Homo sapiens: one gene and its partners. The protein of the gene in region 3 purifies or fractionates together with the protein of the main gene of each other region. This does not show direct contact. Each region holds a gene or a part of one and is shown on either strand. Other genes may lie near its edges. The genes, in order: FASTKD3, ATAD3A, ERAL1, ZER1, COL1A1, MCAT and FAM120A.

Region 1 (4,037 bases), on a different chromosome or scaffold from region 3:
TTCTGCTCATCAAGTTAGAAGAACTGTAAGGACGGAGGACTTGGAGTCTCTTGTCAGTGCTGTCCAGGAGAAATTTCTGTGATGTGGAAATCTTTATAATGGTGCTGTCCAATTTGGCAGCCATGAGCCACATGTGGCTACTGAGCACTTACAATGTGACTGAGGAATTGAATTTTCTTAAACTTTTAATAATTTAAATTTAAATAGCCACATGGTCTAGTGGCTACTATATTTGGACAGTACAAGCCTAGGTTATAGTAGTAGCTAACAATTAGTGAGCATTTCCTACGTTCCAGGTACTATTTTATTTAGACCTTAAGTAAGTCTTTGAGGTCAATATTACTATCATTTTACAGAGGAAGAAGCAAGCAGAAAAAGGTTAAATATTCTGCCCAGGATATTCTGCTACTACGTGGCTAATATTTGAGACTTAAACCCAGACAGTCTTGACTCAACGGCTCTGCTGCTAACCCCAACTTGCCTTCAGGGAAGGGACCATTCCATTTTGCATTTCCAGAGAACTTCTATTGCTTCTAAGTCCCATATATCTCCAAAATCGAACAGGATGCTTAGGTTTAAAACAACAAAACTCCTTATACTACTTACCTATTGTATAACAATAGGGTGTCAACACTTTTGGAGCAAAATATAATCTTGCTCCTAAAAGGTTAGTCAGCCCAATCTTCACATATCTATAAAGCTGAGAATCCACAGGGGTCTCCAGGGAACAGCATGGGGTAAGAAATGACTTCACTTGATATTTAGGAAGGAGTTTTGGACCCTAAAAAATCATAAGTGCAAATGTGAGAAAGAAAAATAAGATATAACAACAGAGAATAAATTGAAGGTTACCTAGGTAGAAAAGTTTGATATAACATTACTTTATAGGCATGATACTTTTCCAGGAATTGGGACAGGCATCTCTCTCAAAATGATAATGCAAACTTCTCTTCTTACAGTGCAAGTCTAATAGTTCAAAATGTCTTTTATATGTGTTTTTACAGTAGTCACTGGTTACCATAAACAGAAAGAAAAGTAAAGAAGGAAGGTAAAAAGGAGTGAGGAGAGAGTGAGAAGAAACATAATAATGCTAACAGTTCAAGAAACATTTTTAGAACTGAGAATTGTCCCAAGGGTCTTAAGTACACACAACTAAAGTTTTCAACACAGGTTTAATTTCTCTAATCTGAAAATCCAAAATCCAAAATGCTCCAAAATCCGAAACCTTTTAAGCACAGACAGGCTGCTTAAAGAAAATGCTCATGAAGCATTCTGGATTTCAAATTTTTGAATTAGGGATGCTGAACTGGTAAATATAATGAGAATATTTTAAAATATGAAAAAATCTGAAAGCTGAAACACTTCTGGTCCTGAGCATTTTGGATAAGGGATACTCAATCTGTAATGGAAAATGTGATATAAATGACATTCCAGTTTAGGAAGAAAAGGATAGCAATATAATAAACGATGCTGGAGAAAATGGTTATTTATTTGGAAAATAACTAAATTAAACTTCTGTCATCCATGACAGATGCTAATAAATTCCAGGTGTACAACATGCTGACTATAGTTAATAAGAATGATTGCGTGCTTGAAAATGGCTGAGAGTACTTTTTTACCTTTTTTTTTGTTTGTTTTTGTTTTTGTTTCTGAGACAGAGTTTCACTCTTGTTGCCCAGGCTGGAGTACAATGACGCGACCTCGGCTCACTGCAACCTCCGCCTCCTGGGTTGAGCGATTCTCCTAACTCAGAGTCCAGAGTAGCTGGGACTACAGGCGTGTGCCATCATGCCCGGCTAATTTTTTGTATTTTTAGTAGAGACAGGGTTTCACCATGTTAGCAAGGCTGGTCTCGAACTCCTGACCTCAGGTGATCCACCCGCCTTGGCCTCCAAAAGTGCTGCGATTACAGGCATGAGCCACTGCGCACGGCAAGAGTACATTTTAAATATTCTTACCACAAAATAAAATGATAGATATGGAGGTAATACACATGTTAATTGGTTTGATTTAGCCATTCTACAATGTATACATATTTCAAAACAACATGAACATAATAAGTATATACAATTTTTGTTAATTAGAATACATAAATAAAAATTCAATTTTACTTTTAGATCAAAGATCTAAATAAAATTTAAAAGATATTATTTTTAAAAATGTAAAATATTCATGCTCTTGAGATAGGAACCTCGGAAGTCATAAAAGACAGATTCGACTACAGAACATTTAAAAATACATCATAAGTAATATTAAAAAGTAATAAAAGAGTACAAATCGGGAAAATATGTACAACATTCATAATAGTTAATATCTGTTTTACAATGAGTCCTTAAAGACAAACCATCCAACAGAAATAAATTAAGGTGTAGAAAGGCAATTCAAAAGAAATGTAAATGGCCAACACATATTTGAAAATATGCTAAACTTCATTAATGCTCATTAAAATGCAACTTAAATATATGATATGATATCCTCTTTCATGTAGTTGAGTAACACAAATTAAAGAGACTACTAACACACTGCAATAGAAGTGGAGGAGACATGGCCACCTTCATTCATTGCTGGGGAAATGTGACATCTGTAACTATTAGGGAAAAAAAATCTGCCAGTATCCATCAAAAATTAATCCACTAATCACATTTTTGGGAATCTAGTTTATATATGAAAAAAACCAAAAAGGCTCTAGTATGACAGGATTTGCAAGAATGTTTATTATAGCATTCCCGATAGAGACAAAAGTTGCAAAAACCTCCAAGTGCATCAATAGTAGAATAAACACCATGAAATATCATGCCTTTCTAAAAAGAATGCATGTGATCTGTATGCACTGGCCTCGAGGGATGGCCATGATATACTGCGCATAAAAGCAAATTGTACTTTGATTAGTGAGTCTCATTCCTTGAAAAGAGAAAAAAAATAGACAGTGTTTATGTATCTGTATACATTTGGGCGTAGAAACTGCTTTTAATACTGTTCCTTTAGAAATGGTAAGAGATCGGGGTTAACTATTATTTATCTTTATATAACTTAGTACTGTCTAAGCTGTTTTAAAAAAGGGGTATTTTTCCATTCTTATTACCTTATTTCAAAAATCAGATACTCTAAACTATGATTCAGAGTCAAGTAGAGAGAAGCAGAGAGAGAATGTCATAGTCTGGTGTGCTATTTCTGATTCTACATAAGGAATGTGATAGGTAATAGGATAAATCTTTATAGGTCTTTATGGGAAGAGCGAACTCTAGATAAACTAAACTCTATTAGATAAAAGTGAAATTTCTGGCTTGGCTTAAAAATATACTGTACTTGCAAATAATTTAGGTATTTGTTCAGTCCAGACATTCACACTTTGATAACAAACAGCTATGGGAAACCTAGTAGTAAACCTAGTACTAAAACCCTGTAAAACCTTCAGAGAGAATGGAGAAATACTGTAACTCACATGCCTGCAGCACTTGATAAAACCTCCTAAGAAATCTTAAACAGCAGGAAATTGTTCCTTCAAGAACAAGAACACAAAAATGGGGTCCATTTATCAAAGAAAAGCCTATCTGGTGGCAACTGACTCCAAGTAAATGAAATTCTGCTTTTTCAGGTTATTGAGACAGATCAGAAGTAAAGGAACTTAAAAGGAAACTGCACCCATGGGGAAATAAAGCCACATATAGTTCATGCTTTTACCTTATAGAAAGGGCATTCCAGGACTGAGGCTAAGAAAAGTTGGGTCAGTTGTGCCCGACTCAATGTGTCCAAATGAGATTCTTTACCTGAAACAGAAAGCATCCCAGTCATAGTTACGTCTGAATTGAGGTATGTATGAGAGAACATCATGAACATTCAACATCAATTTACACACTCCAGACAGAAGTATTCTATTTTTAAATGACACTATGAAATGAACTTGTTAGAATTAATTATGCCCTCCTCTTGCCACCAATGAAATTGACTTCCAAGAACCCAAGCTCCTAGCTACAGAATACAATTAAAAGAGATAAAATATGTTCACAGAATTAGTGGAAATTTCCTTTAACTATGGA
Region 2 (3,549 bases), on a different chromosome or scaffold from region 3:
CTTCAAACTATAAAAGTTGAAAGACAAGACCTGGACCTGATGTCTTCACATGTGAATTCACAAAACATTAAGAAGAATCAGTATCACTCCTCAAACTCTTGGACAAATTGAAGAACATTTCCTCACTCATCCTAAGAGGCCAGCATTACCCTCATATCAAAGCCAGACAAAGACACCACAAGAAAAATGACATGCCAATATCCCTGATAAGCATCGTTGGAAAAGTCCTCAACAAAATGCCAGCAAAACCAATTCAGGAGTATAATAAAAAAATTATACACCCTGACCAAGCAGGATTTATTCCTGGAATGCAAGGATAGTTCAACGTACAAAAATCAATCAATGTTCCACATAAAAAATGTTCAACATACAAAAATCAATCAATATTAGCCGAGTGGAGGAAGGAAACTACATGACCCTCTCATCTGATGCAGGAAAAGCATTCGACCAAATTCAAAACCCTTTTATGAGAAAAGAATTCAAGATGCCGTGCATGGTGGCTCACACCTGTAATCCCAGCACTTTGGGAGGACAAAGGGGGCAGATCACCTGAACTCAAGGAGATCCACTGCCTCAGCCTCCCAAAGTGCTGTGGTTACAGGTGTGAGCCACCGTGCCCAGCCCAAATTATTATTTTATTTTTTATTTTTTTATTTTTGAGACAGAGTCTTGCTCTGTCGCCCAGGCTGGAGTGCAGTGGTGCGATCTCGGCTCACTGCAAGCTCTGCCTCCCGGGTTCATGCCATTCTCCTGCCTCAGCCTCCCAAGTAGCTGGGACTACAGGCACCCGCCACCACATCTGGCTAATTTTTTTTTTGTATTTTTTATTAGAGATGGGGTTCCACCGTGTTAGCCAGGATGGTCTTGATTTCCTGACTTCATGATCCGCCCATCTCGGCCTCCCAAAGTGCTGGGATTACAGGCATGAGCCACCGCGCCCGTCCAGCCCCAGTTATTATTATTTTTAGTTTTCGTTTTCGTTTTTTGGGATGGAGTCTCACTGTGTTGCCAGGCTGGAGTGCAGTGGTGCAATCTCGGCTCTTTGCAACCTCCGCCTCCCGGGTTCAAGTGATTCTCCTGCCTCATTCTCCCAAGTAGCTGGGATTACAGGCATGCGCCACCACACCCAGCTAATTTTTGTATTTTTAGTAGAGATGGGGTTTCACCATTTGGCCAGATGGTCTCCATCTCTTGACCTCGTGATCTGCCCGCCTTGGCCTCCCAAAGTGCTAGGATTACAGGTGTGAGCCACTGCACCTGGCCTATTACTATTTTTTTAAGATGGAGTCTCACGCTATTGCTCAGGCTGGAGGGCAGTGGCACCATCTCAGCTCACCGCATCCTCCGCCTCCTGGATTCAAGAGATTCTCCTGGCTCAGCCTCCTGAGTAGCTGGGACTACAGGCATACACCACAAATGTGCCGGGGTAATTTTTGTATTTTTAGTGGAGGTGAGATTGGCCTTGTTGGCCAGGCTGCTCTCAAACTCCTGACCTCAGGTGTATGATATTCTCACTTCAGCCTCCCAACGTGCTGGGATTACAGGAGTGAGCCACCGCACTCGTTCCAAATTATTCTTAGTTTTTTTTTTTTTTTTTTTTTTTTTTTGAGACGGAGTCTCGCTCTGTCGCCCAGGCTGGAGTGCAGTGGCGGGATCTCGGCTCACTGCAAGCTCCGCCTCCCGGGTTCATGCCATTCTCCTGCCTCAGCCTCCCAAGTAGCTGGGACTACAGGCGCCCGCCACTACGCCCGGCTAATTTTTTGTATTTTTAGTAGAGACGGGGTTTCACCGTTTTAGCCGGGATGGTCTCGATCTCCTGACCTCGTGATCCGCCCGCCTCGGCCTCCCAAAGTGCTGGGATTACAGGCGTGAGCCACCGCGCCCGGCCATTATTCTTAGTTTTTAAGACAGGGTCTTGCTCTGTAATCCAGGCTGGAGTGCAGTGGCAATCACAGCTCACTGCAGCCTCCACCTCCTGGACTCAAGTGATCCTCCCACCTCAGCCTCCCAAGCAGCTGGCATTACAGGCATGTGCCACCAGGTCCAGCTAATTTTTTCATTTTTTGTAGAGATGGGGTCTTGCCTTGCTTTCCAGGCTGGTCCTAAACCCCTGGCTTCAAATAATCTAACTTGGCCTCCCCAAATGCTGGGAATACAAGCGTCAGCCACCACCATACCCGGCCTCTGCTTTCTTAGTTGTGGAAACAGACCTGGTTCCAAGTGGGGATGGCCTGGAACAGAGACCTCAGCTGACCCACAAGGACGGGGTTTGAGATCTGGGGCTCTTTGTCACAGTGGCATAACCCAGCCTGTACTGACTAATACAGCCCCCTGTGAACCCCGGCTCCAACATTCAAATCAAGGTACTCGGCTGCTTCATTAAGCTGTCACACGTTCATTCAAAAGCACTGCTAGATTGAGGAACCAGGTTGTTACACAGACTCTGCGGACCCCAGAGGTGGTGATGCCTGTGCGTGGCCAGGGTGCCTTCTGCCCCACCAACCTGGTTTTGCTTTTCCAGCAACCCCCAAAGACCAAAGCTTTCTGGATGGCCACGCCCACACTCCTGTGAGTCCTGGCTCCTCAGCCCTGGAGCAGCCACGGAGCTGCAGGAGGGGTGTCCCCGAAGAACAACTGGCTGTGGGACAACCAGAGGCCACTCCCACCCATGTGTCAAGCAGGACCAAGCCCACAGACTTGGTCCAGAAAACACAATGTCCCTCCACCCCGAACCCCCAACTCACATGGGGCCTGTCCTAACGACCATTTACACAGGGAGGTGCCTATTGGCCAAGGTGAGAGTCAGAAGCCTCCAGCCCCACCTGGCAAAGCTCGGGCTACGGCGATGCCAGACTGGCCTCCAGAGAGCCCCGGGTGACTGTCAGCCACCGACATGGCTCCACCCTCCTGAGGGCACGAGCAGGTGCGCGATGCCTCGTGGAGTGGCCTGACTGGGGCAGGGGGCCCTGTGTCACCTCTGTGCACTGAAAACCCCTCAACAGAAGCTCCCGCGTGACACCGGTGCTGGGACAGGCCTGGCGCAACTGAGCATCTCCACAGCAGCTGGGGTCCCGTCTGGGTGGACGTGCCGGAGCCTGACTCACCTGCCAGGACACGGCCAGCTGAGCGATCTCCCGGCCCGACATGCCCTCCGTCAGCCGAGCGACCTCCGAGCACTTCCTCCCGTAGTCAAACTGGGCCAGCTTCAGGCGCCTGGGGAAGGAGTTCCCAAGTGGGCCGGCCAAGGCAGCAGCTCCCACAACACGAGGTGGAGGCCGGAAGACAGGCAGCGAGGCCGACACCCACGCCAAACATCCTCTTTGGAGGGGCTCTCTACTTCTGACAGCCCAGCTCCACATCCTCCCTGCTGCAGGCCAGGCCCGGACTGAGCAGGGAGTGGCTGCAGGGCCTGGAGATGGCCCCAACCACTCCTCACACCAGCCCTGCCCACAGCTGCTCACTCAGCACCCGCAGGGCAGGTGGCCTTTATGCTGGCAGTGGCGGAGCCCCGACTTCTAGCAAAAGCGTCTGCCTGGAGGCCACAGAAGC
Region 3 (4,630 bases):
GGTGTCTTCCCAGGGAATTTAGATACCATAATTTCCACCCTCCCATCCTATGGATACCAAAATCTGCTGATTCTCTTGTAGTAAGAGATGACTTTAAGTCATCTTAAAGTCTCTAGATTACTTATAATATCTAATACAATGTAAGTGCTATATAAATAGTTGTTATACTGTATTGTGTTGTATTTTTGTTGCTATTGTTATTTTAGAGATGGGGTCCCTGAAATCCCGTGATAGAGATTTCTGTCTGTTTTGTTCACTGATGTATTCCCAGCACAGGACAGAGCTTGCTAGTGGATGCTTTATACATCTTCCTCCATAGTCAGGCATGTTAGCATGTGCCTGTAGTCCTAGCTACTCAAGAGGGCTGAAACTGGAAGATCGCTTGAACCCAAGAGTTTCAGGCTCCAGTGAGCTATGATCATGCCACTGCACTCCAGCCTGGGTGACAGAATGAGCACTGACTCTAAGAACCTTCCTTCCTCAACACCCCCTCTACCAAAGTTTATCTCTGTTTCTTTTTTTTTTTTTTTTTTTTGAGATGGAGTCTCGCTCTATCGCCCAGGCTGGAGTGCAGTGGTGCAATCTCAGCTCACTGCAAGCTCCGCCTCCCAGGTTCACGCCATTCTCCTGCCTCAGCCTCCTGAGTAGCTGGGACTACAGGCGCCCGCCACCACGCCCGGCTAATTTTTTGTATTTTTAGTAGAGACCGGGTTTCACCGTATTAGCCAGGATGGTCTCGATCTCCTGACCTCGTGATCCGCCCGCCTCGGCCTCCCAAAGTGCTGGGATTACAGGCGTGAGCCACCGCGCCCAGCTCTCTGTTTCAAGTGTTTGATTTAGAGGCTACAAAGGATGAAGAGGGCTCAAGGCCTCAAACAGAGCAAGGTAAATGAGTTTCTCCGGCTGCTAGAGCGGTCTAGGAGACCTTAGGTGGCTAAGCCACTTCTTCCTCCTTTGCAAACCCTCTGGTTGTTCTCCATAAAGGAATGACCTCAGATAGTAGACAGTAGCCAAGGCTTACAGGAGGGAAATCCAGACCTGCTCTTCATCCCAAACACCGACCCAAGGACCACTCCTTCCAGGAACCTAGCCTAAAGCAAAGGTGCAGACAGCCCGGGGCCACCGCTGACCTCTAGGGCAAGCCAAATTAAGGCTGGGAGAGGATCCTGCAGGCCAAAGGATGGAAAGGACTAGGAACAAACAACAACAAAACCCTTACGGGGACAGGCGGAACAGTGCCCCCTCCCACTCCCACAACCATTCCTCCCTCGATGGGAGGACGATTTCTGCTATTTGGCCTCATGGGAAATGTAGTCTTTTAGGAGACATGGCCAGAAGGGCCGTTTACAAAACTTTGGCAGAAGAAAAAAATACGTTGTGTATGGGAGTCCAAAACTACCGTCATGCTTGCACAGACTCTAAATACACATTTTCCCCTTTCCTTAGCCTCCACCAGTCTCCAGAGCAATTCCTCCTCCCGCCCACATCCCATGTGTCTCGGCTTTCAATTTGGGCAGACCTACCTCTCTCCTACTCGCTGGTTCGTCAGCCGCTCTGTTCAATCGTAGGAGCGCTCCTGGTCGGTTCCCGCAGTGCCTTGCGGCTGTAATGGCTGCCCCCAGCTGGCGCGGGGCTAGGCTTGTTCAATCGGTGTTAAGAGTCTGGCAGGTGGGCCCTCATGTCGCGAGGGAGCGGGTGATCCCTTTTTCCTCACTCTTAGGCTTCCAACGGAGGTGCGTGTCCTGCGTCGCGGGGTCCGCTTTCTCTGGTCCCCGCTTGGCCTCGGCTTCTCGCAGTAATGGCCAGGGCTCTGCCCTGGACCACTTCCTCGGATTCTCTCAGCCCGACAGTTCGGTGACTCCTTGCGTCCCCGCGGTGTCCATGAACAGAGGTAAAGCGCCCTGATAGGTTTGCTCGGAACTGTCATGTTTTTAGTATTGAAAGGTTTCTGGGGATACTGTCTTTGATTCTATTTTATAGAAAACAATTTTGAGGCCCTGACAGGGAGGAGCAGTGAAAAATCTCTCAGGAGAGAAATAACAGTTTGAGTGGGAGAAGGAAACGATCTGGTCACAACCAGAGACGCTCACTAAAGAGCATGAGATTGAAGGGCCACAAAGTGGAACTATGGCTCTGCACCCCGACATGGGAAGCAAATTTGATCCAGTAAATGCATGTTGGGCCTCATCTTCTTGTTAAGACACAGTTACACCTGGAAAACAGCACACTTTATTCTTCAAACAGTGTCCGGTATTGGAGACTGGACACAAACTGGTCATTGCAAAATGGTGTCATAAGAAGATAATATAAAAAGACTGGGCCCTCTCCCTTCTTGACCCTTAGCCCTTCCTCCCGTCCCTCCTTCAGGAAAAAAAAAAAAAAAGACTGGGAAAGCTTGCAGGGCCTTCATAGCACCCTTAGTAGGGTGAGAGAATGAGAGCTGAGGAAATATCTGGCTTTGTGTAATCCAGCTTGCTTTCATGTACATTCACTTCTCAGGCACAGCTATACATTATAATTACATGCAGTAATTATTAAGTGCCAGGTATTGTGCTGAGTTGTTTTACACAATTGCTAGTCATCAAAAAAATTATAAGCTGGTAAGTAGGTACTGTTAATATCAACTCACTTTTACATATGAGAAAACTAAAGGGCTCAGGGAGTTACTTTATAAATTAATGTAAATTAAGGGCCAAAGTCTCAAAGTCAGCTCTAGGTGACTTCAACCTGGTGCACTAATTTTGTACCCCTGCTCCCTTTGTGGGTGGGCAGGAACAAGCACTTGACAGGAAATCCAGATTCCACTGTGTCTCATGCTTCTTCCCACTTGCACATAGATGAGCAGGATGTCCTCTTGGTCCATCACCCTGATATGCCTGAGAATTCCCGGGTCCTACGAGTGGTCCTCCTGGGAGCCCCGAATGCAGGGAAGTCAACACTCTCCAACCAGCTACTGGGCCGAAAGGTATGCTACACCCTTGACCATCCTACCCTTTACATCTTTTACTTCTTGCCATGCCTTCAAGGATGGTCTTGGAGGGATCTGGGACCTCACTGAGACTCCTTTGTTCCTGGCAGGTGTTCCCTGTTTCCAGGAAGGTGCATACTACTCGCTGCCAAGCTCTGGGGGTCATCACAGAGAAGGAGACCCAGGTGGTGGGTACCTACAAAGGGAGTCCTTGAAACAGGACAGAGGGTGAAGCTAAGAGGGTCTCCCTTACCATCAGCCTTGAAGAAAATGATGGTCACATTCATTTATGTGAGGAAAGGGGGTTTCTTTTCTTTTTCTTTTTTTTTTTTTTTGAGATGGAGTCTCACTCTGTCTCCCAGGCTGGAGTGCAGTGACGCGATCTTGGCTCACTGCAAGCTCCACCTCCCAGGTTGACGCCATTCTCCTGCCTCAGCCTCCTGAGTAGCTGGGACTACAGGCGCCTGCCACCACACCCAGCTAATTTTTTGTATTTTTAGTAGAGATGGGGTCTCACTGTGTTAGCCAGGATGGTCTCGATCTCCTGACCGCGTGATCCGCCTGCCTCAGCATCCCAAAGTGCTGGGATTACAGGTGTGAGCCACTGCGCCTGGCCAGGAAAGGGGGTTTCCTCTTCCTTTAGGCATGGTACAGTTCTGTCTCTACCTTGCCCTCCCCTGACATCTAGTCAGAAAGATTTCATTCTCTCGCTCTCTTTTTTTTTTTTTTTGAGATGGAGTTTCACTCTTGTTGCCCAGGCTGGAGTTCAATGGCATGATCTCAGCTCACTACAACCTCTGCCTCCCGGGTTTAAGCAGTTCTCCTGCCTCAGCCTCCCGAGTAGCTGGGACTACAGGCATGCGCCACCACGCCCGGCTACTTTTGTATTTTTAGTAGAGATGGGGTTTCACCATGTTGGCCAGGCTAGTCTCAAACTCCTGACCTCAGGTGATCCGCCTGCCTTGGCCTCCCAAAGTGCTGGGATTACAGGCATGAGCCACCACGCCCAGCCGATTTCATTCTCTGTTTACTGCTTCCTAATCTTCCTTATATTCACAGTCATCATCTTTCTCCCAGATCCCATCAAAGCAGAATGGTAGAAACCTAAGGTCAGCCTGGGCGCAGTGGCTCACGTCTGTAATCCCAGCACTTTGGGAGGCCAAAGCAGGCGGATCACTTGAGATCAGGAGTTCAAGACCAGCCTGGCCAACATGGTGAAACCCTGTCTCTACTAAAAAAATACAAAAATTAGCCGGGTGTGGTGGTGCACGCCTGTAATCCCAGCTACTCAGGAGGTTGAGGCAGGAGAATTGCTTGAACCCGGGAGGCAGAGGTTGCAGTGAGCTGAGATTGTGCCACTGCACTCCAGCCTGGATGACAGAGTGAGACTCCGTCTCAGAAAAAAACAAAAAACAAACCTAAAGTCAATAATAGTTTGACTGAGAAGGGAGGGCAGGCTCCTGACATCACAGGTAGCCTCTCTCTGACTTCCCAGTCATAATCTTTTCTCCTGGGGTCTGGGTATCTCACTTTCCTGATTTTAGATTCTACTTGACACACCTGGCATTATCAGTCCTGGTAAACAGAAGAGGTAATGGTGGTGGAATTGGGGTGGATTGGCGGGGAGGTACTGAAAGAGGGTGGGGAGATTCCATTATAGGG
Region 4 (4,037 bases), on a different chromosome or scaffold from region 3:
CCCTATGACCCCATAATTTGTTTTTTTTTTTTTTTTTTTGAGACAGAGTCTCACTCTGTCACCCAGGCTGGAATACAGTGGTACGATCTCGGCTCACTGCAAGCTCCGCCTCCTGGGTTCATGCCATTCTCTTGCCTCAGCCTCCCAAGTAGCTGGGACTACAGGCGCCTGCGACCACGCTCGGCTAATTTTTTGTATTTTTAGTAGAGATGGGGTTTCACCATGTTAGCCAGGATGGTCTCGAACTCCTGACCTTGTGATCCGCCCGCCTCAGCCTCCCAAAATGTTGGGATTACAGGCGTGAGCCACCGCGCCCGGCTGACCCCATCTTATAGAGGAGGAAACTCAAGGTCAAACAGAGGGAGCTGTGTAAACTAGACTGGAACCTGGTCTCGTGGAATCCCTCACATCTCTTAGAGCAAGCTTGTCCAACCTGTGGTCCATGGGCTGCATGTGGCCCAGGACAGCTTTGAATGCAGCCCAACACAAATTTGTAAACTTTCTTAAAACATTATGACATTTATGGACTTTTTTTTTTTTTTAGCTCATCTGCTGTTGTTAGTGTTGGTGTATTTTACGTGTCGCCCAAGACAGTTCCTTTTCCAGTGTGGCCCAGGGAAGCTAAAAGATTGGACACCCCTGACTTAGAGGGTTCTGGAGTTCTGGGGCCCAGCATTGTCCCAGCTTCTGGGAGCCTCCCTCTGTGCCCATTTGTAAACCTTCCAGACTGCTCAGGAAATCCAGCGGGAAGCCACAGGGCACACTGGGCTTTGGAATCAGCCAGTTCTGAGTTCAACTGTGGCACCACTGTCTACTGGGGACTGTGTGTGGATGGGCTGTGGATTCAGGCAGGCATAGCTCACATTTCAGCCTTGCTGCTCACGAGGAGACAAACTTGGGCAAGTGTCTCCACCTCTCTGTGCCTCAGTCACTTTTCCTCTAAAATAGAAGCAGCACAATACCTCATCCCCAGCACGGTGTGAAGATTCCATGGAATAATATCAAAAGGGCTTAGAACGGTGTCTGGCATGTAGTCATTGCTCAATAAAGACAACCGTTATTATGTTGTTGTTATAATCATTACCTTCTCCTACCTCATCTGCCCTGGCTCCCAGCTCCGGGCCTGTGCTCCCCGGCCTGGGTCTCCCACAACAAGGCTCATTGTGTCAGCTGTCCCACTGGCAGCATGGCACCCTCGAGGGAAGGCACAAAAGCCAGGATGCCTGGGCCCCGGGCATGGCCTTCCTTTGCCTTCATTTGCTTCAAGATCTTTAAGAGCCCAGCAGCCTCTCTTGCCTGGGAAACTGGAACCAGAGGGAGCACTGCTGGCAGAGAGTCCCCACTCTTGGAAAGCAACTCTTTTCAAGCCCACCGGAATTACAGCCAGCTTTCTGGCCTACTTGGTCCCCACTGCCCCCCTACTCCAGCCAGCCTGGCCTCATCATTCACTGTCCTGGCAAAAGGCCCTCGGCACAGGTCACCTTCAGACCTTTGCCCAGTCTGTTCTCTTTCAACCAGGACCATCCAAATTCAACTAATTACTGCACTTTCTAATTTAAATACTGCCTTCTCCCCTCCCCTACCCAAATACACTCCATGTCCTTCCTCCAGGAAGTATCTCCTGGCCACTCCAGCCCACATGATCTTTGAACTCTCCTTTCACGTAGCTGATACCTATGGTCCCAGTGTCAAAGTTACTTCCTCTGGGAAGCCATGCTTAACCCACCAGGGTGTGCCTGCTGAGTCCCCCCACAGGCCCGATCTACCACAGCAATGAACACTTGGTACGATGTGGCTTTGATGATTCAGCATCCTTGATGGATGGCCAGGTCCATGAGGGCAAAACCAGGCTGTCTTGTTTGGTATCACCTCCCTGGACCTGCTCACTCAGTCCCTGCTGAGCACTGGGGGTCCTTGGTGAGCGAGCCGGACAAGGTCCTTGACCACATGGAGCGTACTGGCTCCGGAGGGAGACAGATCCACCTACAGGGCCCATAAGCGCCTGTCGCGTAACTGGGACCAGTGTCTTGCAGGAGAAGGGGCCTGGGGCTCTGGATGCCCAATCAGGGGACTTGCCCTGGACTGGGGAGTCAGAGCAGGTATCCTTAGAAGTGACATTTCAGGCCAGGTGCAGTGGCTCACACCTGTAATCCCAAAACTTTGGGAGACTGAGGTAGGTGGATCACCTGAGGTCAGGAGTTCGAGACCAGCCTGGCCAACATGGTGAAACTCCGTCTCTACTAAAAATACAAAAATAAGCTGGGCTGGTGGCGCACGCCTGTAATCCCAGCTACTCGGGAGGCTGAGGCAGGAGAATTGCTTGAACCCGGGAGGCGGAGGTTGCAGTGAGCCAAGATCACACCATTGCACTCTAGCCTGGGCAATAAGAGCAAAACTCCATCAAAAAAAAAAAAAGAAGTGACATTTCAGCTGGGACCCAAAAGATAAGTCCTAGTTAACTCTGGTGGAGGGGAGAGAAGGGGAAGGCGCTTTGGGAGGAAGCAAAGAAGTACCTAAGCTGCAAGGAGAGGGGGTGCATGGGACGTTGGCACTACGGGCCCAGGTCCATGACTATTTGCTAAATGAACAAAGGAAGCACTGAACACTCAATGTGGGGCCTGCCACAAGGTGAGGTTTCAACAAAGGCCTGTGGAAGGAATGACAAAGTACTCGCCATCAGAGGTCTGCACGAGGCCTGGGAGGTATAGTACACTCTCGCATTCTCCCTGCTTGCTGCACTCAGGACACTGCTGGGCGCCCAGTGGCTGCAAATGATGCCTCTTGGCTCGGAGGCTCTGAATGAGGGAGAGCCACTGGGGTTTTGCCTTTTCTGCAGGTCTGAGCCCAGTTACCTAGGCAGCTGCTCTGCCCTTACCATGCTCCCCAAGTGGAAGAAACACCACCACGTCAGTTGTCACGGTCACCAAAAGCCCCCAAAACATAAGCCAGGTAGATGGCGCCATCTGCTAGCCTCCCCTTAGCAGTGTTGACCTTGCCACTCAGGGCTGGAATGAGCTGGAAGAGGAAGCAGCCATCTTACATCCTGGCACAGAGACTGAAGGGCCCCGGGGCTACCATGCCCTGAGACCCATCCAGCTGCGGGCCTGGCACCTGCCAGAGGCAGCCATCTCTACCTACTCCACTCTACCTACTCCATTCCTTAGGGATTGTCATTCTCAGGGCAGTCACAGGCCATCTGGAATTCCAGCAACTGAGGACAGAGGGAGCTCTGGTTATGACCGACCACCACACTGGGAGAACCCTGTGTCTTTCTCCATCCCTTTTCTTGCATGTTCTCTAATACTAGGTCTATCATGAACATTCGACATCCTGGGGAATGAAGGAAGTGGGAGAGAAGAGAGAGAAAAACAGCACCAGCAGCAGCAGCAGCAGAAGGCACCGCCATACCACGTCCATGTTGGCTGCTTCCAGATGTGGTCCTAAGCTCCTTACAGGCTTTACTCCCTCGAGTCTCTTACTCAACCGACAAAATATTTCCTAGTACCCTGTACTTGCAACTAATTAATCATTTACATAACAATTTGTCAACTGACACCCTCCTACTGCCTGTGAGCTCTGGGAGGACAGAAGCTGTATGCTTGCTTGCATGCCTGCATCCATGCACATGTACACACACACACACACACACACACACACACACACACACGTGCGCAAGCGCGCACGCACCTGTATCCTTGGTGTCTGACTTCGGTGCCCAATTTATGCCTGGTGTTTAATAGAACAAAGGTTTGCTGTGGCTGGAATTCCCTTACTCTAGTACTGCAAGATAGAGATTATTACCCCATTTTCTGATGAAGATACTGACGCATACACAACTAAGCAGAAGCTTGCCTGAGATCACAAAACTGATGAGAGTGGGATGCAAACCTAAAGCAGACCCCCGCTTCTCACCAAATATTTGGTCTTCAGTCCATCCATCCAAACAATGGGAGGGAAAGAGAAACTGAAGTCTGGAGGTGGGAGCATGGGATCCCACCAGTGTCCTGATACCCAGAGGACAGAGAGGTTGGGGGAGC
Region 5 (3,500 bases), about 21 Mb from region 3:
GGCGGGACCAGCAGGACCCTGGGGAGAGCAAGGAAAGCATGAGCTCTTGGCCAGGGAAGGCTGAGGCTGGGGCTGCAGGATGAGGCCTCCCCTCTGCTGGATCTCTCTCTCCTCAGCTGCTTCCCACTGTGGCCATCTCTCCCAACTCCCAGGGAAACCTCCCCACTGCAATCTTCACGGGAGCTGGGGCCAACTCATGGGAGAGGCGGTCCTGTCTGGGAGAGGGGACTTGGGGCTGAGCTTTAACTCAGTTTTTTGGATTAAGGCCCTGACATCTTGCAGGATCTCCTTTCCTCCCCCTGCCTGGGTGAAGTCCGACACCCATCCCCAGGCCTCTAAGGAGGCCTGAAGAGTCCCTGGCCTGACCAGGTACAGGGAACTGGAGCCCAGCTACTTACAGTCTCACCACGATCACCACTCTTGCCAGCAGGGCCAACGGGGCCAGGGGCACCAGGAGCACCAGGAGCACCAGGGGGTCCAGCGGGGCCGGTCTCACCACGGTCACCCTGGCGGGGAGAGCAGGGGAATATGGGTCAGCCCCGGGTGAAGGGCCAGGATGGGGCAGGGAAGCAGCAGACAAGGCTGTGGTCATGGAGTGTTGCCATCTTACCTTGGCGCCAGGAGAACCGTCTCGTCCAGGGGAACCTTCGGCACCAGGAGCCCCCTGCAGAGAGAGAGAGAGAGAAGTGAGAGTCAGCCGGGGAAGAGGGCTTAGGCAAGGCCACAATGGCCATGCTGAGGGTACTGGCATGGGGGCTGGGGACTGCTCACCTCACGTCCAGATTCACCAGGGGGTCCAGCCAATCCAGGGGGGCCCATGGGACCAGGGGGACCACGTTCACCACTTGCTCCAGAGGGACCTTGTTTGCCAGGTTCACCCTAAGGGAGAAGAAAGAGTCAGGCCAGAGATAGGGTCTGGGAGGACCCTTGAGTCCGCTGGAGTCATCTCTACCAAATCTGTTCTCCTTGGCTCCGCCCCACTCCAAGTCCTGTGATGGTTTTTCTCAGGGCCCCCCAAGGTGAGGGGGGCACTTACAGAGGGGCCAGGAAGACCAGGGAAGCCTCTCTCTCCTCTCTGACCAGGCAGGCCGACCACACCACGCTGTCCAGCAATACCTTGAGGCCCGGGAGTACCAGGAGCACCCTTTGGGAGGCAAACAGGGGTGAGGTGCCAGAGAGCAGCACAGGGACCCCTCCCCAGCTCTGCACACCTCCGGAGCTGCAGAGATCTGAGCTGGCACTTACAGCAGGACCATCAGCACCAGGGGATCCTTTCTCGCCAGCAGGGCCAGGGGGACCAGGGGGACCAACTTCACCAGGACGTCCAGCAGGGCCAGTCTCACCACGGGGACCTTTGCCGCCTTCTTTGCCAGCAGGACCAGGAGGGCCAGGGGGTCCAGCATTTCCCTGGATGAGGATAGGAGGGGCTGTCAGACTCCAGGGGGCTCTGGTGCATCATTGGGTCCTCAGTCAGCCCCACCATCCTTCTGGCAGCCCCCACCCAGCACCCCCAACCTAGAGCAGTGGACTCTGCTGCAGAGACTTACAGAGGGGCCAGGAGGACCGACTCGGCCAGCAGCACCAGGGAAACCAGTAGCACCCTGGAAGGAGAGAACATAGGAACAGTCAGAGGGAGAACAGCCAACTCATCCGACCCAGCTGCCCTCACCTGCCACCGCTGCCTGGGGAGAGGGGAGAGGCTCAACAGAGAGGCGGGTGATACTCACAGGGGGACCAGCGCTGCCGCGAGCACCTTTGGCTCCAGGAGCACCAACATTACCCTGTAGGAGAGCACAGAGGCATCAAGCCTGGACCCGTCCTGGGTCCCAGCCCACCAGCCTCGTGGGCACAGAGGGCCAAGCCACTCACAATGGGGCCAGGGGGTCCAGCGGGTCCGGCAGGGCCAGGGGGACCAGCATCGCCTTTAGCACCAGCATCACCAGGTTCGCCTTTAGCACCAGGTTGGCCGTCAGCACCCTGGGGGAGGAAGCAGGGCGGTGAATGGAGGGAAGGAGGCAGGAGTTTCCACTACCTGGGGGAGGAGCAGTAATGGAGGCAGGAAGATGCTTGGGTGGGAAACAATCCCGTCTCCACCCTTCTCCCCTGAGGATGGCTGACGCCTTTGTCCTCATTCCGTCCCTCGAGGTCCCAGGTCCCAGTCGGTGATGAAAAATGATGGGGGTCTTGGTACTCACAGGGGGGCCAGCAAAGCCAGCAGGGCCGGGGGGACCAGGCTCACCACGGTCTCCCTAGAAGAAAAGGAGTCAGATTGGAGAGATGCGCTGACAGGAGGGAAGGCGGGGATGCGGTGAGGGGAGAGGCAAGGGGTGAAGGCACAGACAGGGCCAGGGGTGCTGTGTGAAGGGAGGGAAGGGCCAAGTATGGGGTCTTAACAGGTCTTCTGTACTTACGGGGGCACCACGAGCTCCAGTGGGACCAGCAGGGCCGCTGGGACCACTTTCACCCTGAGAGCAAGGGACAAGAGGCTCAGGGTCAGGGCCTCCCCTGAATACTCCTAGTAGATGACCCCAGGAGAGCCTCCCCTCCTTCTGGTCCCTCCAGGTTCCCAGGTTGACAGCTCAGTTTGGCAGGACCTGCTCTCCCAACGCAACCCCACGGAACCGTGCCCAGGCCTGCTGAGGAGGCTATGTGTTAGGGCAGAAGGTGGGGAGGCGGCCACCTCACCTTGTCACCAGGGGCACCAGCAGGGCCAGGAGGACCAATGGGGCCAGTCAGACCACGGACGCCATCTTTGCCAGGAGAGCCATCAGCACCTTTGGGACCAGCATCACCCTAAAGACATGGATAAGCTTGAGATTTCCAGTGTGGGGCAAGGAGGTGACCTATAGTGTTCTGCTTGTGTCTGGGTTTCCTGAGAGGCCCTCTGCAGCTCTGCCCTGCCTCCACCTGGGCCAAGGACTCAAAGATTCTTTCAGGAAAAAGGGTGCCTGCCTGGAGACTCAGGTGGAACTGAGGTTAAGAGGCCCCTGACTTGTGTAGCGGGATGAATAAGGGAGCCTCCACCAAGGAGATGCCCCCACCTCTCATCACCATGGTAACCCATGGGGATAGATGGGCCTGGACCACAGGGAGAGGATTCATCAGCAAAAAGGCCAGAGGGGAAAGGGGAAGAAGGGAGGATTAGCGAGAAGAGGGACAGATCCCAGAGAGAAGGAGAGATGCTGAGAGATTCAAAGCAGGCAGAGATGGGAGCCATGTAGGGCTCAGGGGAGGGGGAAGGTTGAACTTACTCTGTCACCCTTAGGCCCTGGAAGACCAGCTGCACCACGTTCACCAGGCATTCCCTGAAGGCCAGGGGCGCCCTGGCTACCGGGAGCTCCAGGGGCACCAGCATCACCCTATGTGACAACCAAGAAGACTGGAGTGAGGCCTGGGGCCCCAAGAGTGGGTCACAGCCCTAAGCCCCGCTTGGTATCTCCCAGGCTTGTTTCCAAGGCCAACGACAAGCCTTGAGAAAAGATGAAAAGACTCACAGCCCA
Region 6 (4,639 bases), on a different chromosome or scaffold from region 3:
TGCAGCTAATTTTGTGTATGTGTGTGTGTGTGACAGGGTGTCACTCTGTCACCCAGGCTGGAATGCAGTGGCACGATCACAGCTCACTGCAGCTTTGACCTCCTGGGTTCAGGTAATCCTCCCACCTCATCCTCCCAAGTACTCGAGCTGGGACTACAGGCGCACACCAACATGCCTGGCTAATTTTTGTATTTTCGGTAGAGATGGGGTTTTCACCATGTTGCCCAGGGTGGTCTAAAACTCCTGGGCTCAAACATCTATCTGCCTCTGCCTCCCAAAGTGCTGGCATTACAGGTGTGAATCACTGCACCCAACGTAATTTTTGTTTTTTGTTGGGGGCAGAGATGAAGGTCTCACTATGTGGCCCAAGATGGTCTGGAACTCCTGGCCTCAAGTGGTCCTCCTGCCTTGGCCTCCCAAAGCACTGGGATTACAGACGTAAGCCATGGTTCCTGGCCAGCAAAAATCTTAAGAAGTAAAACTGATATGGCTCCAGATCCAATATTTATTTACTCTTTAATTCAACGAATATCTACTGAACACATACTCTCGTGTTGCAGGTGCTGCAGGTATGAGTGCACAGGATAGCGGGTTAGACAGTTCAGCAAGCAGATTTCATGAGATTACAAAAATAAGGGAAATCCCTAATGAATCCTTCAGTCTTGAAAAGGAATCACAGCAAAGCCCTGTCCTCATGTGCCAATGTCACCCCTGTCCATGTGCTCCCTTCCCATCACCTGAGTGGGTCCAGTATCATTTTTGGCAGTGTCCCTTACCCCTAATGAGCCCAAGACCACAGCCTTGCATAAAACCAAACTCCTTCCTGTACCTTCAGCAAATTCCATGGCTCCGGCAAACACTAGGGCTGCAAACTCTCCCACACTGAATCCAGCAGCAGCAACACAGTTCTCAATCACCTGTGGGGACAGATGCAGAACGTGAGCCCTCACTCTCCTGGGGATCCCAGTTCCAGGGCTCTGTACCTGAGAGCTGGCGGGGTGTTCAGCATCTCAGTGAGCCAGGTTCTACGAACTTGGTGCACCAGCTGGAAGAGGACACACAAAAGTGACCTTGACAATCATTGAGTCCTGCCCCTTTATTTAGGAGGAGCTTTCCTGGTTAGTTACAGTCCATCAACTCCGTCCATGGTCACACTGACGCCAACCCAGGGCTCTGGATTCCCTTGCCATGGCCCTGCAGCAGGCTCTCAGGCCATATCGTTGTGCACAAGTTAAGAGCATGACTTTTTTTTTTTTGAGGCGGAGTTTTGCTCTTGTTGCCCAGGCTGGAGTGCAATGGCGTGATCTCGGCTCACTGCAACGTCCGCCTCCCGGGTTCAAGCAATTCTCCTGCCTCAGCCTCCCGAGTTGCTGGGATTACAGGTGTCCACCACCACACTTGGCTAATTTTTGTATTTTTAGTAGAGACGGGGTTTCACCATGTTGGCCAGGCTGGTTTTGAACTCCTGACCTCGTGATGCACCCACCTCAGCCTCCTGAAGTGCTGGATTATAGGCATTATAGGCGTGAGCCACCTCGCCCGGCCAAGAGCATTTTTATCTCATCTGTGAAATGAGGGAAGAACAGGGCCTACCCCAAAGGGCGGATGAGAGAATTATGTGAATATAATGTCTATACAGTGCTTAGCACAGACCCAGACTAGGGTAAGCAGTGAATGAATATTATGATGACGATTCAACAGGACCACTTAACTAATTCTTTTAATATCCCTGAGTCTGCATTCCTCAACCATCAAATAACAGTATTAACCTCACAAGGTGGTGTGAAGGTGAAATAGGGTAAAGGATCTCAAGTGCTAGCTTAACATTTACCGTCTTATTAAATATTAATAGCAATCAATCCACCACCTTCAAGTGAAGTGACATTCTCAACTCATCTCAATGTTCCTTCATTTAGGCCAGTGCAGTGGCTCATACCTGTAATCCTAGCACTTTGGGAGGCCGAGGTGGGTGAACCTGGGAGGATTTAAGTAAAGAATAAAAAAATTAGCCGGGCGTGGTGGTGTGCACCTGTGATCCCAGCTACTGCGGAGGCTGAGGCAGGAGAACTGCTTGAACCTGGGAGGCAGAGGTTGCAGTGAGCCAAGACTGCGCCATTGCACTCCAGCCTGGGTGACAGAGCAAGACTCTGTCTCAAAAAACAAAACAAAACGGGCCGGGCACGGTGGCTCATGCCTGTAATCCCAGCACTTTGGGAGGCCGAGGCGGGCAGATCACGAGGTCAGGAGATCAAGACCATCCTGACTAACACGATGAAACCCCGTCTCTACTAAAAATACAAAAAATTAGCCGGGCATGGTGGCGGGCGCCTGTAGTCCCAGCTACTTGGGAGGCTGAGGCAGGAGAATGGCGTGAACTCGGGAGGCGGAGCCGAGATCGCGCCACTGCACTCTAGCCTGGGCGACAGAGCGAGACTCCGTCTCAAAAAAAAAAACAAAAACAAACAAAAAAAAAAACTCGATCGAATGAGTAAGACGTGGGAGCCCCCGGAATGGCAGGCGGAAGCCTCTGGCAGGGCCAAGAGCTCAGGCAGAGCTCACCTTCCCCCTCCTGTCACGGGGCCTCGGGCCTCACCGAGGGCTGCAGGTGATGTAGTTTCTCGACAGCGGCCAGCGATGCCACGAAGATCGCGGGCTGACAGTGCACGGTGCGGTCCAGGGTCTCCTGCGGCCCGTGCAGGCTCAGTTCCAGCAGGTCGTAGCCCAGCACGCGGCGGGCGGCGGCGTAGAGTTCGCGGACGCGCGGGTAGTTGAGCAGACCGCGGCCCATGCCCACCACCTGGCTGCCCTGGCCCGGGAAGAGCAGCACGGAGCACTGGCCCGGCATTCGCCGCTCCGTCGCCGCCCAGGGCGCCTCCTCCTCCGCCCCGGTCGCATCTCGCAGCAGCTCCGCTACACCCTGGGCGCCCGGCGGAGGCACCGGGAAGCTCGAGGCGCCGCGGCGGTAGCTGGCGCCCAAGCCCCTGACCCACGCTACCCGTGCGACCCGGACGCTCATGGTCGGACACCTGCCCGCGCGCGTTACCGTGGCGACCGAGGCCCGACTGCGGCGGCGCGGCGCAGCGTGGTCCCTGACGCATTTCCTGCCGGGGCTTCCGGGGCACCGGGAGCGGGAAGAAAGGTTCCGCAGACGCTGGTTCCGCCCCGGCTCTGAGGCCCTTCGGGCTGCGTTCTGGGGTCCTGGAGGGACTCATGCGTTTACTTAAACAGCCATAGCCGTTGAACGGAACACGATGCCACACCACAGTGGGTCCTCAACAGATATTTATGGAATAAATAACGCAACGCAATGTAGTATTTACGCTTTCTACCTGGCACATGAAGAGCACTTGAAACTCTTCCACATTGATGGTTTTTGTTGTTGTCGTTGTTGTTGTTTGTTGTTGTTTTTTGAGACGGAGTCTTGCTCTGTCGCCCAGGCTGGAGTGCAGTGGCGTGTTCTTTGCTCACTGCAACCGCCGCCTCCCAGGTTCAAGCGATTCTCCTGCTTCAGCTTCCCGAGTAGCTGGGATTAACAGGCGCCCGCCACCATGCCTGACTAATTTTTGTATTTTTAGTAGGGACGGGTTCACCATGTTGGCCACGCTGGTGTCGAACTCCTGACCTCAGGTGATCCACCCGCCTCGGCCTCCCAAAGTGCTGGGATTACAGGCGTGAGCCACCGCGCCCGGCCAGCAACCACATTTCTTGCATATGATCCTCCCAACCACAGGAGTTGGCATGGCCGACCATCCGTTGCCAGTTCCCAACTATACAACAGCTCTCTTTTATAATGTTTTCTTACAAACCACACAGTGCTTGGCACATAATAAGCATCCAATAGATCTTTATGCTATTGAACAAAGCCTTGAATGTGTTTCAGATATTAGCTTATTTAATTCCTCACAGCAACGCTGTGATGGATAGCTGCTCAGAGATTGAGTGACAGGTGGTTAGTGACAGAATGGAGGTTGGAAATTGGGGTTATCTAATGTTAACCTAAAAGCAACTCAAGAGACACAGGCTCGGCCAGGCGCAGTGGCTCATGCCTGTAATCCCAGTACTTTGGGAGGCTGAGGCAGATGGATCACTTGAGGTCAGGAGTTCAAGACCAGCCTGGCCAACATGGAGAAACCCCGTCTCTACTAAAAATACAAAAATTAGCTGGGCGTGGTGGTGGGCGCTTATAGTTCCAGCTACTCGGGAGGCTGAGGCAGGAGAATCCCCTAAGCCCGGGCAGCAGAGGTTGCAGTGAGCCGAGATCCCACCACTGCACTCCAGCCTGGGTGACAGAGCAAGACTCCGTTTCAAAAAAAAAAAAAAGGCTGGGTGCGGTGGCTCATGCCTGTAATCGCAGCACTTTGGGAGGCCGAGGCGGGCAGATCACCTGGGGTCAGGAGTTCAAGACTAGCCTGGTCAACATGGTGAAACCCCCTCACTACAAAAAATACAAAAATTAGCTGGGCGTGGCGGCACATGCCTGTAATCATAGCTACCTGGGAGTCGGAGGCAGGAGAATTGCTTGAACCCAGGAGGCAGAGGTTGCAGTGAGCCCAGACTGCGCCATTGCACTCCAGCCTGGGCAACAAGAATGAAACTCCATCTCCAGAAAAAAACAAAAAACAAAAAAAATATATATATA
Region 7 (3,898 bases), on a different chromosome or scaffold from region 3:
TCATTATTCTAGGGACTGGGAGGATGGGATGCTGGAATACCAAGCATGACTCTATGGTGGTAGAGGGTGTAACTCTGAAGTGAATGATCATGAAGTTCAAGCTAGTTACAGCTAAAAAGGAAGCCAACAGAATGGGAAAAGAGAAATGGCGGAAGGCAAGCAGGGGACAGACGGTGGGAGCGGCAAGGAGTGACAGGGACACAGCGTTCAGAAGTGTTAAAGGTGGGGTCACTTTTCTCACTAATTATACGGTCCAAGCTCTGGAGTATCTAAAGTGCAATTAGAAATTCACTCCAGTTGCAGAATCAGGATGCCAGATGAGAGAGGTGAAGAGTCAGTGTCTGTGTTGATGGGACACAGTATAAATAATATATAAGAATGTAAAACCAGGTGCTGAAGTGTTTGAGGACAGTGAGGCTGTGCCTTGGAAATGGTGAGATGTCAAATAAACATGTGGGTTAGCACTCACCTCAAAATATGTAATATTGAGAAGTATATAATGAAGAATATACTATGGAAGTGGCCAAGAGGATTGTGGCATTTAAGGAAACATCATATTGCAGTAACCCCAGGAAATGGAAGCATTTTGATCATTGAAAAAGGTTCAAGGAGGCAGACAGGAAAAGACAGAGTGGTTTTTGATAGGTTTAATTTTAAAGTAAAAAAAAAAAAAAGGAAGAGATTTAGATGACCATGATAATTGTTGATAAAGATCAGTGCTCAAATAACAAATTGGTGGCACAAGAGCTGAAGCTAACTTAGAACCAAGTTTTCCTTCGCTTGGCATTTTTAAAATGGAATAATTTTTTTAAAAATCTGGGTTTCTGGCTTTCTTGCAAAGTCTGAAGTTCTGGTAATGTTGACTCTATGGTCCTACGTGGCTTTTAAAATGTGCATACCTTTAGCTCTACTGTGTGTATATATCATGTGTATACCATCTGTCGGGGTTGGATAAATTATGGAATACTATTTAGGGACTGAAAAGACTTAGAGCTCTAAGTATAGACATGGAAAGATTTCTTACAAATAAAAAAGCAAACTGCTGAATAACGTATAGTGCAATCACATTAATGTGAAAAAATGGAACTATATTATAATAATATATATTATATAACTTATGACATAAAATATATGGCCTACACAGCCACTGTGGAAAATATATGGCCATTCCTTAAAAAGAAAAACAGAATTACCATATGACCCAGCAATCCTACTTCTGAGTATATACCCAAAAGAACTGAAAGCAGGAACTCGAACAGCTCTTTGTATACTATGCTCATAGAAGCATTATTCATTATTCCCAATAGTCAAAAAGTGGAAGCAACCCAAGTATCCACCAGTGGATGAATGGATAAACAAAATGTGGTACATATACACAGTGGAGTATTACTTAGCCTTAAAAGTTAAGGAAATTCTGACACAATCTACAACATGAAAGAAGCTTGAAGACATTATGCTATGTGAATTAAACTAGTGACAAAAGTAGTACAACAGAGAAATATATACAGTGACTAGTTTGAGGTATAATATGGTCAGTTTTGAACCTTAAAAATCTTCCAGTCAATTAAAGGTCCTTAAGAATAAGATGTACTGTCAGTGTCCAGGATCTACTGATGGACATTTTTCTTCTGAATAGCAACATGACTGTTCCTATCCTAACTAGAAAACATAGCTGAAGCAGTTAGCTATCGTAATTGACCTGGGGGTGAGAATTGTAGGTAGGCACACCCACAAAGTATTCTTACACAAAGAAGCTGAACTTTGACTTTAGCACTCCACTTCCGTCTTGAGGTTACTAATGACTTGTCCCCAGATGTCACTTAATCACTAGATCCTGTTTTTACACATGAAAAATGGGGTAACAAAGCACTCTGAGGATTAAATGAGATGGAATATGTGAGAAAGGATCTAGCAAGCACCTGGTCTGATACCAGTTCATTCTCTTCCCCCATCAAGTATACATGAAGGGAGACCATCATCTCTAAATACAAACATGTAATTATGCTAACCATGAAAATTCTAAACCATAGTCTAACCTCACATTCTTCCACTGACTTATAGCATGAACGCCATTTTATGTAAGAGCATTATTTAACAAAATTCCAATGGAAGCAAATTCAGAAGATCTGAAGGACTTTATTATAAACCCTTACACTGATACCACAAGTCATATAGCAGAAACATTTATGAAAGCTCCAGTGACTTCATGCCACTAAGATTTTAAAATAAACATAAGTCATTCACTGAAGTTTCAAAGGTTATAATGACCCAAGGCACACAAGAAGAAACACTGTCCAAGTAACTAGCTAAAGCCAAGTTCAAATTAGGCTATTTTAGGACCTACACAAAACTAGTCAATACATAGGCCAAAGTATTATTATTTTCATTGTTCTGGCTGTCTTTCCATGTAGACCAACTTCTAATGGTTAAAGAAATACAATTACTACTACTGAACAAAAAAATACAATTACTACTCTGTAAAAGAAATAATCTCTAAATCAAAAAAGATTTCTCCTGGCCAGGCGCAGTGGCTCACGCCCGTAATCCCAGCACTTTGGGAGGCCGAGGCAGGTGGATCACGAGGTCAGGAGCTCAAGACCAGCCTGGCCAAGATGGTGAAACCCCGCCTCTACTAAAAATACAAAGATTAGCCAGGCATGATGGCAGGCGCCTATAATCCCAGCTACTAGGGAGGCTGAGGTAGGAGAATCGCTTGAACCCAGGAGGTGGAGGTTGCAGTGAGCCGAGATCGCGCCACTGCACTCCAGCCTGAGAGACAGAGTGAGACTCCATCTCAAAAAAAAAAAAGATTTCTCTAAGCAAAGGTAACAGGAAATTATGCCCCTCTGCCAATTTACAAAACACTAGAAAGCACCAATAAGATGCTTAAAGTTTTTATAAATGTCTCATTTACTCAACATTATATATACTGAATTGTTCATGTCAATTCCTTTGCCAGTGGTTTTTACTTAATCTTAAAAAAATTATCATATGATAAAATTAACACATTTACTTTGGATGAATAGTTCTGATTTTAATGTATGGTAGCATCACCACCATCAGAATACAGAACAGTTCCATCACTCCACAAAGATCTCTCCTGCTGTCCCCTTTATGTGTACATCCTTCCCCTCCTCTACTCTCAGCACCACTGAATTGGTCCCTATCACTATAGTTTTATAATCATCCCTTTTGAACCTGGCTTCTTTCACTCAGTATAAAACCTTAATTAAATATTCATGCAAGTTGTTACCTACACCAGCAATTCCTTCCTTATTATTGCTAAGTAGTATTCCATAGTATGGCTATACTGTAGTTTAACCATTCACTTATTAAAGGATACTTTGTTTCCACGTTTGGGCTATTATGAATTAAGCTGCTATGGACATTTGAGTACCAGTTTTTGCACAAACAAAAGTCTTCATTAGGAAAATACCCAGGAGTGGAATTGCTGGATCGTATGATAAATGTATGTTTAACTTTATAAGAAAGTGCCACTGTTTTCTGGAGTGGTGGTGCCATTCTGCATTCCCACAAGCAATGTGTAAGGATCCAGTTGCTCAGCATTCTTGCTAGCACTTGGTATTGCTCATATTTTTTTCTCTTTTAGCCATTCTAATAGGCATGTAGTGATATCATGGTTTTAAACGTTTTAACCACTTTATGGGTATCTTTTATTAAATGGTATACACTGTTTCAATCCCTTAAACAGAGAATGCTGAATATTAATTTTTATGACTCAAAATCATCCTTATAGAATAAACATTGTACTACCCTCAGGGACCAAGGAAGTACATAGGGTTGTTTTCCTTTTCTTAAAATAGCCCCAGAATTATGTTTGCTTTTTATAGCTTTTTAAATCTCTCTTGTCACTTCTTGCTATTAATGGTGCTCCTGC

The links.
Region 1: the proteins of ERAL1 (region 3) and FASTKD3 purify together in Homo sapiens (tandem affinity purification; one large-scale study listed by IntAct). This does not show direct contact.
Region 2: the proteins of ERAL1 (region 3) and ATAD3A purify together in Homo sapiens (tandem affinity purification; one large-scale study listed by IntAct). This does not show direct contact.
Region 4: the proteins of ERAL1 (region 3) and ZER1 purify together in Homo sapiens (co-immunoprecipitation; one large-scale study listed by IntAct). This does not show direct contact.
Region 5: the proteins of ERAL1 (region 3) and COL1A1 purify together in Homo sapiens (affinity purification with mass spectrometry; 3 studies listed by BioGRID and IntAct, with this or other methods). This does not show direct contact.
Region 6: the proteins of ERAL1 (region 3) and MCAT purify together in Homo sapiens (affinity purification with mass spectrometry; 2 studies listed by BioGRID and IntAct, with this or other methods). This does not show direct contact.
Region 7: the proteins of ERAL1 (region 3) and FAM120A purify together in Homo sapiens (co-immunoprecipitation; 2 studies listed by BioGRID and IntAct, with this or other methods). This does not show direct contact.

What each region holds. Positions count from the first base shown.
Region 1 is NC_000005.10:7,862,217-7,866,253, forward strand, and holds part of FASTKD3 (FAST kinase domain-containing protein 3, mitochondrial), read right to left. Parts: intron 3,768-4,037; coding exon 3,682-3,767; intron 782-3,681; coding exon 607-781; intron 1-606. UniProt on the Homo sapiens protein: Required for normal mitochondrial respiration. Increases steady-state levels and half-lives of a subset of mature mitochondrial mRNAs MT-ND2, MT-ND3, MT-CYTB, MT-CO2, and MT-ATP8/6.
Region 2 is NC_000001.11:1,528,887-1,532,435, reverse strand, and holds part of ATAD3A (ATPase family AAA domain-containing protein 3A), read right to left. Parts: intron 3,214-3,549; coding exon 3,105-3,213; intron 1-3,104. UniProt on the Homo sapiens protein: Essential for mitochondrial network organization, mitochondrial metabolism and cell growth at organism and cellular level. May play an important role in mitochondrial protein synthesis. May also participate in mitochondrial DNA replication.
Region 3 is NC_000017.11:28,853,427-28,858,056, forward strand, and holds the start of ERAL1 (GTPase Era, mitochondrial), read left to right. Parts: upstream 1-1,589; 5' UTR 1,590-1,608; coding exon 1,609-1,891; intron 1,892-2,837; coding exon 2,838-2,965; intron 2,966-3,078; coding exon 3,079-3,156; intron 3,157-4,512; coding exon 4,513-4,559; intron 4,560-4,630. UniProt on the Homo sapiens protein: Probable GTPase that plays a role in the mitochondrial ribosomal small subunit assembly. Specifically binds the 12S mitochondrial rRNA (12S mt-rRNA) to a 33 nucleotide section delineating the 3' terminal stem-loop region.
Region 4 is NC_000009.12:128,761,584-128,765,620, forward strand, and holds part of ZER1 (protein zer-1 homolog), read right to left. Parts: intron 1-4,037. UniProt on the Homo sapiens protein: Serves as substrate adapter subunit in the E3 ubiquitin ligase complex ZYG11B-CUL2-Elongin BC. Acts to target substrates bearing N-terminal degrons for proteasomal degradation with the first four residues of substrates being the key recognition elements.
Region 5 is NC_000017.11:50,188,132-50,191,631, forward strand, and holds part of COL1A1 (collagen alpha-1(I) chain preproprotein), read right to left. Parts: intron 3,360-3,500; coding exon 3,252-3,359; intron 2,794-3,251; coding exon 2,686-2,793; intron 2,466-2,685; coding exon 2,412-2,465; intron 2,250-2,411; coding exon 2,196-2,249; intron 1,978-2,195; coding exon 1,870-1,977; intron 1,782-1,869; coding exon 1,728-1,781; intron 1,602-1,727; coding exon 1,548-1,601; intron 1,408-1,547; coding exon 1,246-1,407; intron 1,145-1,245; coding exon 1,037-1,144; intron 880-1,036; coding exon 772-879; intron 665-771; coding exon 611-664; intron 507-610; coding exon 399-506; intron 19-398; coding exon 1-18. UniProt on the Homo sapiens protein: Type I collagen is a member of group I collagen (fibrillar forming collagen).
Region 6 is NC_000022.11:43,140,333-43,144,971, forward strand, and holds the start of MCAT (malonyl-CoA-acyl carrier protein transacylase, mitochondrial isoform a precursor), read right to left. Parts: upstream 3,067-4,639; 5' UTR 3,017-3,066; coding exon 2,594-3,016; exon of another isoform or gene 2,560-2,593; intron 918-2,559; coding exon 830-917; intron 1-829. UniProt on the Homo sapiens protein: Catalyzes the transfer of a malonyl moiety from malonyl-CoA to the free thiol group of the phosphopantetheine arm of the mitochondrial ACP protein (NDUFAB1). This suggests the existence of the biosynthesis of fatty acids in mitochondria.
Region 7 is NC_000009.12:93,454,579-93,458,476, reverse strand, and holds part of FAM120A (constitutive coactivator of PPAR-gamma-like protein 1), read right to left. Parts: intron 1-3,898. UniProt on the Homo sapiens protein: Component of the oxidative stress-induced survival signaling. May regulate the activation of SRC family protein kinases. May act as a scaffolding protein enabling SRC family protein kinases to phosphorylate and activate PI3-kinase.